Linked DNA regions of Homo sapiens. The protein of the gene in region 4 interacts with the protein of the main gene of each other region in a pairwise test. Each region holds a gene or a part of one and is shown on either strand. Other genes may lie near its edges.

What was found.
Region 1: the proteins of CCDC125 (region 4) and MYH1 interact in binary tests that used the Homo sapiens proteins (3 or more experiments, as listed by UniProt).
Region 2: the proteins of CCDC125 (region 4) and UACA interact in binary tests that used the Homo sapiens proteins (3 or more experiments, as listed by UniProt).
Region 3: the proteins of CCDC125 (region 4) and PRPF3 interact in binary tests that used the Homo sapiens proteins (3 or more experiments, as listed by UniProt).

What each region holds. Positions count from the first base shown.
Region 1 is NC_000017.11:10,515,743-10,519,855, reverse strand, and holds the start of MYH1 (myosin-1), read left to right. Parts: upstream 1-1,313; 5' UTR 1,314-1,336; intron 1,337-1,585; 5' UTR 1,586-1,616; intron 1,617-3,173; 5' UTR 3,174-3,213; coding exon 3,214-3,417; intron 3,418-3,513; coding exon 3,514-3,657; intron 3,658-3,773; coding exon 3,774-3,930; intron 3,931-4,113. UniProt on the Homo sapiens protein: Required for normal hearing. It plays a role in cochlear amplification of auditory stimuli, likely through the positive regulation of prestin (SLC26A5) activity and outer hair cell (OHC) electromotility.
Region 2 is NC_000015.10:70,662,559-70,666,058, forward strand, and holds part of UACA (uveal autoantigen with coiled-coil domains and ankyrin repeats), read right to left. Parts: intron 2,257-3,500; coding exon 2,104-2,256; intron 1-2,103. UniProt on the Homo sapiens protein: Regulates APAF1 expression and plays an important role in the regulation of stress-induced apoptosis. Promotes apoptosis by regulating three pathways, apoptosome up-regulation, LGALS3/galectin-3 down-regulation and NF-kappa-B inactivation.
Region 3 is NC_000001.11:150,349,033-150,352,532, forward strand, and holds part of PRPF3 (U4/U6 small nuclear ribonucleoprotein Prp3), read left to right. Parts: intron 1-124; coding exon 125-186; intron 187-3,500. UniProt on the Homo sapiens protein: Plays a role in pre-mRNA splicing as component of the U4/U6-U5 tri-snRNP complex that is involved in spliceosome assembly, and as component of the precatalytic spliceosome (spliceosome B complex).
Region 4 is NC_000005.10:69,315,802-69,319,301, reverse strand, and holds part of CCDC125 (coiled-coil domain-containing protein 125), read left to right. Parts: intron 1-3,500. UniProt on the Homo sapiens protein: May be involved in the regulation of cell migration.

The DNA of each region.
Region 1 (4,113 bases), on a different chromosome or scaffold from region 4:
GTAACAAAGCAGGCTAATAGATGGCTAGGAAAGGCCCTCTCAGACGCACATCCCTGCAATACCCTTCCTGATGGCTTTAATCTACCCCAGGTAGAAGAGTGTCACAAGTGAGTACGCTGGACCGCAAGTCAGATGACCAGAGTCTAAACTGCTGTGTGATTTGTGGAGATTCTCTTCTATTTTTTGGATCTCAGTTGCTTTATTAGTAAAATGAGAAAGATGAATTAGATGATCCCTTATGGTAATAAAACTATGTGACCTTTACAACTAGTATATCCAGATATCTCCTTTCATAAGGCAAGCTATAGCCATTAAATCAATTGAGATATAAGTACAATAATACAGATGTGGGTGCAAAACCAGGTATATTAAGCAAATGTTGTCCCAGTCCTAGCCAGACAATGCTGACAGACAGAGACGTGAGGCCACAAAGACAGTAAAATAAACTTTTTTAAAAAATTAAAATAGAAAACAATATTCAGGTATTGTTTGTAAGCAAAATACTAAATATATCCCATGGACTGCTGATAGAGGAAAAATCATCGATGCTGCATATTTAGACAGAGAAATACCCTGTTTCCAATATTTTCTTATGTTGAGTTTCATAGAGGAAACAAGATTTCACAAGCAACTTGGGCACCAAAAAAAAATGAGAGAAGCAGGACATCTCTGTTTGGAAGGCAATGCAATTTCGGAGCAAGTCCGAAGTGCCGGTGGAATGATTTGACAATGAATAAGAGGCGACTGATTGAAGGAAACAAAAGAAGCTATCTTTGGCTGCTCTTCATGAAGCAAGTTTCAAAATTAAATTTCCAAGCAACTTTGAAAAAGCACAATAAATTGCAAAAAAAAAAAAAAAAAAAAAAAGGAAATCTTTTTGAGAGAAAGCAACGTTTTTATAACCCTCTGCTAAAGAGCAGAAGTTTTCCTCCCGAGTACACTATCTGTAACTGCGCAGGCAGTTGAAAAGACTTCACACAGGCGACTCTGTGAAACAGAAGAGCAGTAGGCAACAAAGTCCAGGGATTCCAGAACTTAGCTGTCTTTGAAACAACACCTTACATTCCAAAGGCCAACAACTTTAAGATTGCCAACGACTCAAATTATTTATAGGAGATTGATTCATATACTTAACCCAATATGAGAGGAAATATTTCTAATTATATCCAAACATCTTTAATATGAGGGGAATTAGGCTTGGAGACCTTCAATGCCAAAAACATGTTTTGCCAAATATGTTTTAAGAAAGAGGAGGAGGTTACGTGTTTTCCATATTTGAGCCTATAAAAGTACCCTTGGAATGAGTATGACTTGTCTCTCCTCATAAAGCTTCAAGGTAAGTGTGTGTGAGGACAGGGCTCTGTCTGGAGGACGGTAAGGGATGTCTGGCTGCCCGCGTGCATGCCACACATCCTGGCTCCCACTGTCCCTGGCAGCCCTGCCAGTGAAGCACCAGCTTACTCCGTAGCAATTTTAATTAGATGTTGTAGTCTTCCCAGTCATTTCCTGGTTCTCAGTTAAGAATTGTTCTATAATCGGGAATTGTTATAATTTAATCAGAAGAGGTTTGCTCTTTTTCTTACAGTTCTGATCCACTTTAAGGTCGCATCTCTACGGTAAGATTCTGATTTTTTTTTTTCTCATTCCTCACAGAGTGCAAGGAATCTTCTGCAGTGGTTTGGACAGTGGTGAGGGGCGGGGTGAGGGAAGTGATAAAAAAAATCATTTCCATTTCATGGTTGATCACGCTTCTCTTAAAAAATGGAGAATGACTTTAGAAACTGGTTCTCCTTAACTCATATCCCTCGCAATATATGAAAATGCTTTCTCAGAGTCCTTGGGAATTTTATTCACAATAGTGAATTTCATTCACTATTTCCAGCATTGTAGTTTATCTTTTAAATGACTGCATTACAATATGCAATGTAACATTTCAAAGTGTTACTCAATTATAGAGAAAATTTAAATTTTCTATACCATGGCTTTTCCTCAGCACTATAAATATAAAAACCTATGAGAGATGATGTCTAATTGGATAAATAGAATGGTCTGAATCTTTGCCTTGGAAAAAGTTGCTTAACTGCATGTTGTTTCACAATCTATAAAATAAAAATTAACGAATATATACACACACACACACACATATGTATATATACACACACACAATACGAAACATGATTGTCAGCATATTCAGCAAGATGAAGCATTTTAATTATGTTATCTGAGTCAACATAGTTTCAATGGGAGAAATGTATCCAAATGAGCTTCCCTGGAAAAGGTATCTTTATTATTATAAAGTAGAATATACATGAAGATTATTGACAGCATTAATGAATGCTAGCTAATGTGGCAAGAGGGGGATCCTGAAAAGAACAAGTTTTGTGAAATTGTTATAAAAATGTTAATAATAGAGCAAGAAAACATAGGTAATAACGTTTTATAATAAATATTTAAGAAATGCTAAAGATCAGTGAAGAAGTTGAGTTTGTCAAAATTATTATACAGAGACAACAGAAATTGATGGATAACAGAACATTTTTTAACAATGCAAAACAAAGAGCCACACATTTCTGCTTTCCTGTATATTAGGAAGTCTTCGTAACTCCCAAGTTTATAATGAAAATATTTCTGTCATGTACAGAATAGTTCCTAAAATTATAGCAACATATTCCTATTGTTCTTTTAATTCACCAAGCCAGCTTTGAGCCTTTCTCTGTGTCCAGCATTTGTTCTAAGAGGTGTGAAGGATACCATAAAAAGAAGAGTGCTCCCTGCCTGCAAGGTGCTTATAATCCAGTTGGGAAGATAAAAACTATAAGTGAAAGAACTGGAGACTATCCTGCCACCATTATAGCTTTATGTTCTCTATAAGCCAATGATAGGCAGCTTATAAAGATTAATATACCTAACAAATGAAACAGAGAAAGCAGCTAAGAGACTGCAATAGGTGAGCCAGAAACAACAGTCTCTTTCCAAATGCATGATTAAGTGTCTGTCAGCACTGGCACAGAACAAGGAGACTGACATTTTATCCTCAACCAAGCCAGGGAGGTGGTCATACCCAATGCAATGCTAAGCACTCAATTGGTCAGTAAATTTTTTTTTAAAGTTTTAAATGTGAATCTAATGGTCCAGTTTCTTAATTTCTACAATTTCTTTTCTTCCTCTCCCAGCCAGGGTCCTTAACTGGGCTACCATCAATAACCTGCAGCCATGAGTTCCGACTCTGAGATGGCCATTTTTGGGGAGGCTGCTCCTTTCCTCCGAAAGTCTGAAAGGGAGCGAATTGAAGCCCAGAACAAGCCTTTTGATGCCAAGACATCAGTCTTTGTGGTGGACCCTAAGGAGTCCTTTGTGAAAGCAACAGTGCAGAGCAGGGAAGGGGGGAAGGTGACAGCTAAGACCGAAGCTGGAGCTGTGAGTAAAAACACCTGGAGCTGATTAGACTCTGCCTCATTTTGGGTTAAGTTAGCACTTACTTTTTGATCTGGCCTCTCTTGTTTGACTGGACAGACTGTAACAGTGAAAGATGACCAAGTCTTCCCCATGAACCCTCCCAAATATGACAAGATCGAGGACATGGCCATGATGACTCATCTACACGAGCCTGCTGTGCTGTACAACCTCAAAGAGCGCTACGCAGCCTGGATGATCTACGTGAGTTCTTTCTCACGGTCTTCTACTCATGAGAGTAGTTAATAGTTTTTGAAAAGTAGTAGATGATTAAGGTCCCCATCAAATAATTCTGTTCCTCCCTTTTGTTTTGGGTGCAGACCTACTCAGGCTTGTTCTGTGTCACTGTCAACCCCTACAAGTGGTTGCCAGTGTATAATGCAGAGGTGGTGACAGCCTACCGAGGCAAAAAGCGCCAGGAGGCCCCACCCCACATCTTCTCCATCTCTGACAATGCCTATCAGTTCATGCTGACTGGTGAGTGGCTCAGCTGGTTTTCATATGAATTATTTTACCATCCATAATCACAAAATATTAGAACTAAAAAAAGACCTTTAGAAAAAAACCCAATTCACGCCCCTGGTTGTTCAGCAGAGGTGACTAAAGCACAGAGAAGTATATACTGTCAAAGCTCGTATTAAAACACAGCTCTCCTGATTA
Region 2 (3,500 bases), on a different chromosome or scaffold from region 4:
TCCTAAGTCAAAAGAACAAAGCTGGAGGCATCATGCTACCTAACTTCAAACTATACTACAAGGCTACAGTAACCAAAACAGCATGCTACTGGTACCAAAACAGAGATACAGACCAATGGAACAGAACAGAGCCCTCAGAAATAATGCCACATATCTACAACTATCTGATCTTTGACAAACCTGACAAAAACAAGAAATGGGGAAACCATTCCCTATTTAATAAATGGTGCTGGGAAAACTGGCTAGCCATACGCAGAAAGCTGAAACTGGATCCCTTCCTTACACCTTATACAAAAATTAATTCAAGATGGATTAAAGACTTAAATGTTATACCTAAAACCATAAAAACCCTAGAAGAAAACCTAGGCAATACCATTCAGGACATAGGCATGGGCAAGGACTTCATGTCTAAAACACCAAAAGCAATGGCAACAAAAGCCAAAATTGACAAATGGGATCTAATTAAACTAAAGAGCTTCTGCACAGCAAAAGAAACTACCATCAGAGTGAACAGGCAACCTACAGAATGGGAGAACATTTTTGCAATCCACTCATCTGACAAAGGGCTAATATCCAGAATCTACAATGAACTCAAACACATTTACAAGAAAAAAACAACCCCATCAACAAGTGGGCGAAGGATATGAACAGACACTTCTCAAAAGAAGACATTTATGCAGCCAAAAGACACATGAAAAAATGCTCATCATCACTGGCCGTCAGAGAAATGCAAATCAAAACCACAGTGAGATACCATCTCACACCAGTTAGAATGGCAATCATTAAAAAGTCAGGAAACAACAGGTGCTGGAGAGGATGTGGAGAAATAGGAACACTTTTACACTGTTGGTGGGACTGTAAACTAGTTCAACTATTGTGGAAGTCAGTGTGGCGATTCCTCAGGGATCTCAAAGTAGAAATACCATTTGACCCAGCCATCCCATTACTGGGTATATACCCAAAGGATTATAGATCATGCTGCTATAAAGACACATGCTGCTATAAAGACACATATGTTTATTGCGGCACTGTTCACAATAGCAAGGACTTGGAACCAACCCAAATGTCCAACAATGATAGACTGGATTAAGAAAATGTGGCACATATACACCATGGAATACTATGCAGTGATAAAAAAGGATGAGTTCATGTCCTTTGTAGGGACATGGATGAAGCTGGAAACCATCATTCTCAGCAAACTATCGCAACGACAAAAAACCAAACACTGCATGTTCTCACTCATAGGTGGGAACTGAACAGTGAGAACACATGGACACAGGAAGGGGAACATCACACACTGGGGCCTGTTGTGGGGTGGGGGGAGGGGGGAGGGATAGCATTAGGTGATATATCTAATGTTAAATGACGAGTTAATGGGTGCAGCACACCAACATGGTCCATGTATACATATGTAACAAACCTGCACGTTGTGCACATGTACCCTAGAACTTAAAGTATAATAAAAATAATAATAAATGTAAACAAGTAATCAGTTATTATTCTATTTTCTTGATGAGAAAACCAAGAGTTAAAGGGAATGTTCCTTGCCACTTCCTTGTAAGTGGCAGGACTTAGACCAGACCTTCCAACATTAGCTTCTAAATCCAGGCACTTATCCTTCTATATAAGGTATAAAACCATAGGAATGCCTCTTTATTCACAAAGATAAAAGATTATTTTAAAACCTCCTTTAGTTTAGTGGACCAATATTTTAGAGAGCACCCTGCAATGAGAAAGATGCTGGATTTGGAGTCAGCCAGTTCCAGGTTTATACCCCAGCTGAATGACCCCAGGCATCAAATATGTTATTCTTTGTTTCCTTAAGAATTAAATGGAGGGAATAAATCTGCTTTGTGAGATCATGATGAAGATAAAGTTTATAGATAAAGTACGTAAAATGTTTAATATGGTGCCTGGTGTATAGTAGGCATCAAATAAGTATTATTACACCACCAGTATAGGTAACTTTTCGCATATAAAAATAATTATATTCTTGGATCCGAACATAGCTACAGAGCACTTTAATTTCTAAATGAGCCTTACAAACTAACTACAGGGAGCCAGCACATATTCCTGCAAAGCCCCGTGTGCCTGGTTACTCACGGCCAGCTGTTGCTCCAGAGATTTCACTTGGTGCTGCAGAGTGTCAATCAGCTGGCTCTGCCTCTTGGTGGGGTTCCCACTTGTGTAGGTGAGTTGGGAAAGGCCATTGAGTGCCTGTTTTAATCTTTCCACATCATTAAGCAGTTCAGTTATCTTTAAAAAAATGTTGTAGGAGAAATATATTATTCACTTATCATGTACAATGAACATCTTTGTACAGAAATCATTCCTTTTTGGAGACAGAAGCTTTATCTTTATACACCAGAAAATTGAGGTATGAATATTGCCAAGACTGTTACCAAGGATGTATACAATATGTAATTTATAATTAAATCCCTCTCCAGAAATTATTTACAAAAGCAATACCAAATTAAGAATAAATATTACATATATCCTAAGATGTGAGTATAAACATAGTCTTACTTTTAGCTAATATATAAGCATCTACGAAGGCACATGAACTATCTTCCAGGTAACATATGGAACACAGGAAGGGAAGGGGGATTCCCAGCAACAAAGTGTGAAAAGTAAAAGGGTGTGGCCCGTGTAAGTCTAGGATTAACATATGTTCCTTTTTCCTTTCAAGAGTTGTATTATTTAAGACCACTTTGTTGTAGAGAGAAAAAAAACAAGGAGGCTTGTTTATAGGAATAGGAAGTGCCTAGAAACATAGCATTTTTCCACCCTGCTTTAAAGTCAGACAGAGTCAACTTGTATGAGCTTGGCTAATTTACTTTTCTGAGCCTTAGATTCCACATTGGTGAAAGGTGGACAATCTTTCAGAGTTAAGAAAATCAGGTTGGGCACAGTGGCTCACACCTATAGTCCCAACACTTTGGGAGGCTAAGGCAGGAAGATTGTTTAAACTCAGGAATTCAAGACCAGCCTGGGCAATAGAGCAAGATACCATCTCCTCCCCCACAAAATTTTTTATTGAAAAATAATAATAGAAAAAAAACAAAGAAAATGAAATGCAATTACATGCACCCGCTCAATAAATGGCAACAAGTAGATATTAATAATTAACTCTTATATATTACTATATATATTCATAGGTACCTTCTGAACAAGCTTAGAGCATTTAAATTCTCAATCACAGAGATGGTGTGCCAGAGGACAGTATGTACAAGTACTTTCCACTGGGGAGGGCAGTCTGTGTCTGTGTTTACTCCACTGTATCCCCAGCACATGACATGCAGAAGGCATTTAATCATTACATGTTGAATGGATAAAACTGCAGCCAATCTTTATATGTCATATCCATAGTAAAAACTTTATGCAACATCAGTGTCAAAAATATTGTTGAGTACCTATTCTGTAAATTGTACCATGAGAATTAAAGCTAAGATGGAAAGTTAAGTTATAAACCCTGCTCATAAAAACTGATTGGGAAGATC
Region 3 (3,500 bases), on a different chromosome or scaffold from region 4:
AGAGAACACTTGGTCCAACACATAAAAAGGGTGATAATATTTTAGAGAGTTTGGGTAGACTTGAATATTATTTGTTTAGAACCTGAATCTCAAGTCTAAGTCTGTAACAAGATTTCTCTTCCAGATGATGAGGAGTCTGATGAGGAAGCTGTGAAGAAAACCAACAAATGTGTACTAGTCTGGGAGGTAGGTGATCCTTTGTAAAACATTGTAAAACTTTAGCCAACTCCTGAATATTTATACTATTTGAGTGGAGCAATGGAATGTAAGATGTAATCAGTGAATAATGTTTTAAATAATTTATGTTTCTTTTTGGAATCCATTTTTAAATGGTTGGCAGTAAATTCTTCCTGATCATCTGTTTAATTAAATTCGTGAGTATTTAGTATATGCTATCTGGGGAAGTGCGTGGACAGTGCTGCTGGTAGCAGGAATACAAATTCTCTACCGAAAATTATTTATTTCACAGTCATGAATATGAGACTTGGAAACGGGAATGAATTGTTGTTGGATTTACCTTTGGATATAGTGAAGGAAGTACTAGACTTAAGAATATAAAGTTAGGAGGCTGGGCAGTGCTGCTTATTAGCTGTGCAATCTGGGCAAGACACTTAATGTCAAATTCTGTTGCCTTAGCTATTGTTCTCTATATTGTCAAGTTTTTGAGAATGAAATTAGATAATTATGTGATAGTGCTTCATAAAATGTGACTGAATCACTCTTCAAGTGGAATATTTTTTATGGTTATCTAGTTCTTTAACCCCTGAAGCCTTCTTAGAGAACCAGTATTAAAACCAGTATTAATGTTTTCATGTTTGCTTTTAGGTATAGTACATGTATATCTTTTTTTGGGGGCGGGGGGGCGGGGGGCGGTATGGAGTTTCGCTCTTGTTGCTCTTGTTGCCCAGGCTGGAGTGCGATGGCGTGATCTCGGCTCACCGCAACCTCTACCTCCCAGGTTCAAACGATTCTCCTGCCTCAGCCTCCCAAGTAGCTGGGATTACAGGTGCACGCCACCATGCCCGACTAATTTTTGTATTTATAGTAGAGACAGGGTTTCTCCATGTTGGTCAGGCTGGTCTTGAACTCCCAACCTCAGGTGATCCGCCTGCCTCGGCCTCCCAAAGTGCTGGGATTACAGGCATGAGCCACTGTGCCCAGCCCCTCCATTTCTTTTTTTTTTTTTTTGAGAGAGTTTTGCCCTTGTTACCCAGGCTGGAGTGCAATGGTGCAATCTCAGCTCACCGCAACCACCGCCTCCTGGGTTCAAGTGATTCTCCTGCCTCGGCCTCCCGAGTAGCTGGAATTACAGGCATGAGCCACCACGCCTGGCTAATTTTGTATTTTTAGTAGAGACGGGGTTTCGCCATATTGGTCAAGCTGGTCTCGAACTCCTGACCTGAGGTCCGACTGCCTTGGCCTCCCAAAGTGCTGGGATTACAGGCATGAGTCACTGCGCCCGGCCATATATCTTCTATTTTTAAAATGTGCTTATTTCTAGTATATGTGCTGCTGAAGCGAGCAGTAAAATGTGCTTATTTCTATTAATGAATTCTTTATTATAAAAGTGGTACATTATTACAAAAGTAGTAAATGTTTATTAAGATTAGAAACAAATTCTAATTATACAGAAGAGTACTTACTGAGACCCAGCACAGTGGCTCACGCCTATAATCCCAGCACTTTGGGAGGATGAGGTGGTTGGATCACTTGAGCTCAGGAGTTCAAGACCAGCCTGGGCAATATGGCGAAACCCCGTCTCTACAAAAAATACAAAAATTAGCCTGGCCTGGTGGCGTCTGCCTGTAGTCCCAGCTACTTGAGAGGCTGAGGTGGGAAGATTGCTTCAGCTTTGGAGTTTGAAGCTGCAGTGAGCTGTGACTATGCCACTGCACTCCAGCCTGGGCACCAGAGTGAAACCCTGTCTTAAAAAAAAAAAAGAAAAAGTCTCAGGCCAGGTGCAGTGGCTCATGCCTATACTCCCAACACTTTGGGAGGCTGAGGTGGGCGGATTACGAGGTCAGGAATTCGAGACTAACCTGGCCAACATGGTGAAACCCAGTCTCTACTAAAAATACAAAAATTAGTGGGGCGTGGTGGCCAGTGCCTATAATCCCAGCTACTTGGGAGGCTGAGGCAGGAGAATCGCTTGAATCTGGGAAGCGGAGGTTGCAGTGAGCCGAGATCGCACCATTGCACTCCAGCCTGGGTGACAGTGCGAGACTGTGTCTCAAAACAAAAGTCTCTTCCTATTCGCTGATCTCTTCAGACCAGTCTTTATAGGTAATTGCTATTAATAGTTTTTCTTCTGAAGGAGCAATCAAAAAATAAAAATTAAAAAAAAAGGTTTTCATGTATCCTGCCTTATCCCAGATTCTTCAATTTATGCATACAAATTAGATGATAATAACCATAGTATTTGTTCTCTGTTTTATAAGTTCCCACCTGCATATTTGTTATCTTTTTTTAATCAACTTTTTTTTTTAGAGATAGGGTCTTGCTCTATTGCTCAGGCTGGTGTGCAGTGGCGCAGTCATAGCTCGCTACAGCCTTGAACTCCTAGGGACAAGCAATCCTCCAGTCTCAGCTTCTCAAGTATCTGAGACCTCAGGTCCACACCACTGTGCCTGGCTAATTTTTTTTTTTTTTTTTTTTTTTTTTAGAAATGGATCTCACTATGTTGCCTAGGCTTGTCTTGAACTCTTAGCCTTGAGTGATCCTCCCACCTCAGCCTCCCAAAGTGCTGGGATTATAGGCATGAGCTACTGTGCCCAGCCCTACCTTCACATATCTCAGCACCCTCATCTTTCAATTTTCTTCTATTTATCTCTGAAGAGTACTTACTGAAAAAGTCCCGGCTTCTTAGAGAACCAGTATTAATGTTGTAGGAATTTAGTTTTCAGGAATTGTCTCTCATGTTCAGAAATAAGCCAAGTTCTGCTCCAGCCTCCTTATTGGAGTCTACTCCCTGAACGCCTCTTGAGGTATTGCTTTATGACTGCCATTGCTGCTGGTAACTTTGGCAAGAATGCCATTCTGCCCAGTACTGTCTTTTTCTGTTGTAATTCTCTGCTGGTACCTGCTCTTCTTCTGTTCCCCGCCCCCAGTTGTTCTTTGTTGCTGGGCCCCAAAGCCTCCTGCTTATATAAATAGTTTCTGGGGCCTTTTTGAAGGCTCAGATTTAGTCCTTAAGGCCTGGTAGGAGATAAGTTTATCTCATTCCACCTTCCATAGTTCTTCCTGACTTGCTGTTCCACCCAGGCACCAGAGCAAATAATTCCTCACTTCATTTCAAAAAACTAAAAGCCTTATGCATATGAATTCGTAAAATCTCATACAAATATCCAAGGAGGCCGGGCGCGGTGGCTCACGCCTATAATCCCAGCACTTTGGGAGGCTGAGGCGGGAGGATCACGAGGTCAGGAGATCGAGACCATCCTGGCTAACACGGTGAAACCCCGTCTCTACTAGAAATACAAAAAATCAGCTGGGCGTGGTAG
Region 4 (3,500 bases):
GTAAACAAAATAGACAAAGGCCCTAATGTCATGGATTTCACATTCTAATAGAGGAGATAGAAAATAAACCTGCAGGCCGGGTACAGTGGCTCATGCCTGTAATCCCAGCACTTTGGGAGGCTGAGGCGGATGGATCACTTGAGGTCAGGAGCTTGAGACCAGCCTGGCCAACATGGCAAAACCCCATCTCTACTAAAAGTATAAAAATTAGCTGGGTGTGGTGGCACGTGCTTGTAGTCCCAGCTACTCGGGAGGCCGAGGCACAAGAATTGCTTGAACCCGGGAGGTGGAGCCAAAATTGTACCACTGCACTCCAGCCTGGGCAACAGAGCAAGACTTTGTCTCAAAAAAAAAAAAAGAAAAAAAACCAAAACCCTGCAAATCAACAGATGTGTAACATTGGGCAGTGGTAAGTGAAGGGATAGTGAGTGATTATGGGGAATGGGGTGCTAGTATTTCAGGCCAGGGTTAGGAAGGCTTCTGTAAGGAGGTGACATTTTTTTTCTTTTTACTTTTCTTTTTATTTTTTATTTTTATTTATTTATTATGAGGTGGAGTCTCACTCTTGTCGCCCAGGCTAGAGTGCAGTGTCACAATCTCGGCTCACTGCAACCTCCGCCTCCTGGGTTCAAGGTATTCTACTGCCTCAGCCTCCTGAGTAGCTGGGATTACAGGTGCCCGCCCCCATGCCTGGCTAATTTTTTTTTTTTTTTGTATTTTTAGTAGAGATGGGGTTTCACCACGTTGGCCAGGTTGGTTTCAAACTCCTGACCTCAAGTGATCCGCCCACCTCAGCCTCCCAAAATGCTGGGATTACAGGCATGAGCCACCGTGCCTGGCCTTTTTCTTTTTTAAAAAGAGACAGTCTCACTGTGTCACTAAGGTGGAGTGCAGTAGCATGATCACAGCTCACTGCAACCTCAAAGTCCTGGGCTTAAGCAATCCTCTTGCCTCAGTCTCCTGAGTAGCTGAGACTACAGGCATGTTCCACCATATCCGGCTAATTTAAAAGAAATTTTTTCGGCCAGGTGCTGTGGCTCACGCCTGTAATCCCAGCACTTTGGGAGGCTGAGGCGGGTGGATCATGAGGTCAGGAGTTTCAGACCAGCCTGACCAACATGGTGAAACCCCATCTGTACTAAAAATACAAAAATTAGCCAGGCATGGTGGCGTGCACCTGTAATCCCAGCTACTCAGGAGGCTGAGGCAGGAGAATCACGTGAACCTGGGAGGCGGAAGTTGCAGTGAGCCGAGATCGCACCACTGCGCTCCAGCCTGGCGACAGAGCAAGACTCAGTCTCAAAAAAAAAAAAAAAAAAAAAAAAAAATTCTAGAGACAAGGTCTCACTATGTTACCCAGGCTGGTCTCAAACTCCTGACCTCAAGCAGTCCTCCCACCTTGGCCTGAGCACCAGAATGAAGGGGAGAGTAAGGCAGTGGATCTTTGGGAAAGGAGTGTTCCAGGAAGAACAGAGATGCTTCTGGTTATTTTAGGAGGTCATGAAACTCTCAAAAATTGTCAAAACAGTTAGTCTTAATTTATCATAACCAAAAAGAAATTATACCTTACCTTATGGAAATAATAAAATTTAGCATCGTATTTTGATAAAATGTTACAACTCCAAAATGATCGGGAGTCTGTGGATAAGCCCATGCCTGTACCATGGCACCAGCTGTTATCTGGCTAAATATTTTGTAATCTATGTTGTAAAACTTCCTCTTCTGAAACTTCCCCTCAAAGTTGAACAAACACAAATTAGAACAACATGAGAGTGATTTAAGAAACATGGTTTCAGATTTACAAAAATACGTGGTAGCTCGTGGTAGCTCAGGGTTCATCCCCATCCTTCAACATCCCTCTTGAAATCAGAATGGGATTATTTTTATATTTTTCTTCCAATTCCTTATTGTGTATAGAGAATGGATACTGTTTTGAAAGCAAAATGTTGGAAACTGAGCATGATGCTAAGATGCCTTTATAAAAACATGAAGATGCCAGGTGCGGTGGCTCATGCCTGTAATCCCAGCACTTTGGGAGACTGGGGTGGGTGGATCATGAGGTCAGGAGTTTGAGACCAGCCTGGCCAAGATGGTGAAACCCCGTCTCTACTAAAAATACAAAAAAATTAGCTGGGCATGGTGGCAGGTGCCTGTAATCCCAGCTACTTGGGAGGCTGAGGCAGGAGAATCACTTGAACCTGGGAGGCGGAGGTTGCAGTGAGCCAAGATCACACCACTGCACTCTAGCCTGGGCAACAGAGCAAGACTCCATCTCAAACAAACAAACAAACAGCATGAAGAAACACTGGGGTATAAATAAGATTTAAATAGTAATAGTATGAGTTCCCATTTTGTTGGGTTATGAACTTTTCTTTTTATTAAAGTTGGCCCTATCACTAATAGATAATTTCCAAAATACCACACATTTAATGGCTTAAAACAACACAAATTTATTATTTTACAGTTCTGTAGGTCAGAAGTCCCAAACAGGCTACGTCTGGTAGCTGATGCCTATAATCCCAGCATTTTGGGAGGCCGAGGTGGGAGAATCACTTGAGGCCAGGAGTTCGACACCAGCCTGGTCAACATAGAAAGACCACACTCCACAAAAAAAAGTTTAAAAATTAGCAGGTGTAGTAGTGTGCACCTGTAGTCCCAGCTACTTGAGAAGCTGATGCAGGAGCACTGCAGCCTGAGCAATAAAGCAAGACCCTCTCTCTGTGGGAAAAAAAGTCCCAAATAAATTTCAGTGGGCTAAAGCCAGGGTGTTGGCAGGGTGCGTTCCTTCTGGAGGTTCAGTGGGAAGACTCTACTCCTTTGCCTTTTCTAGCTCCAGAGGCTACTGCATTCCTTGGCTCATGGCCCCCTCCCCATCTTCAAAGCCAACGATGGCTGAGTCTTTCTCACATCATATCACTCTAACATTTACCTTCTCGTCTCCCTCTTTCATGTATAAGGACTCTTATGAGTACACTGGACTCACTTGGATAATCCAGAGTACTCTCCCATCTCAAAATCCTTAATCTCATCACATCTGCAAAGTTCCTTTTGCCATGTGTTCACAGCTTCTGGGAATTGGCATGTGGACATCATATTCTGCCTACCACAAGTATTAATAGAACAGAACTTGTCACTGCCAACCCAGAGTCACTCTGCCCTCCTTGGAAGCCTGTATCATCAATCACAGTACAAACATGATTTAGGTTTTGCCTTAGATACTGTCATGTTAATGAAATTTCAGAATAGCAAAGAAAGTTGTTTTGAGAAATATTTTTTCAAAGCAAACATTCTTCTCAATAAAATTTTTTTTTTACTTCCTATACTCTTGCTTATAACTTGCCACTTTAATTTTTTTTTTTTTTTTTTTTTTTACTGCCGTTGAGGCAGAAAGGAAAATGAAGCTCTTAGGAAGCTCAATTTAAATTCTCAGTTGATCACATTAAGGAGCAAATAATTGAAGTTACAGGACTCTTCTAGTCATTCTTTTTGGAAAGAAATTA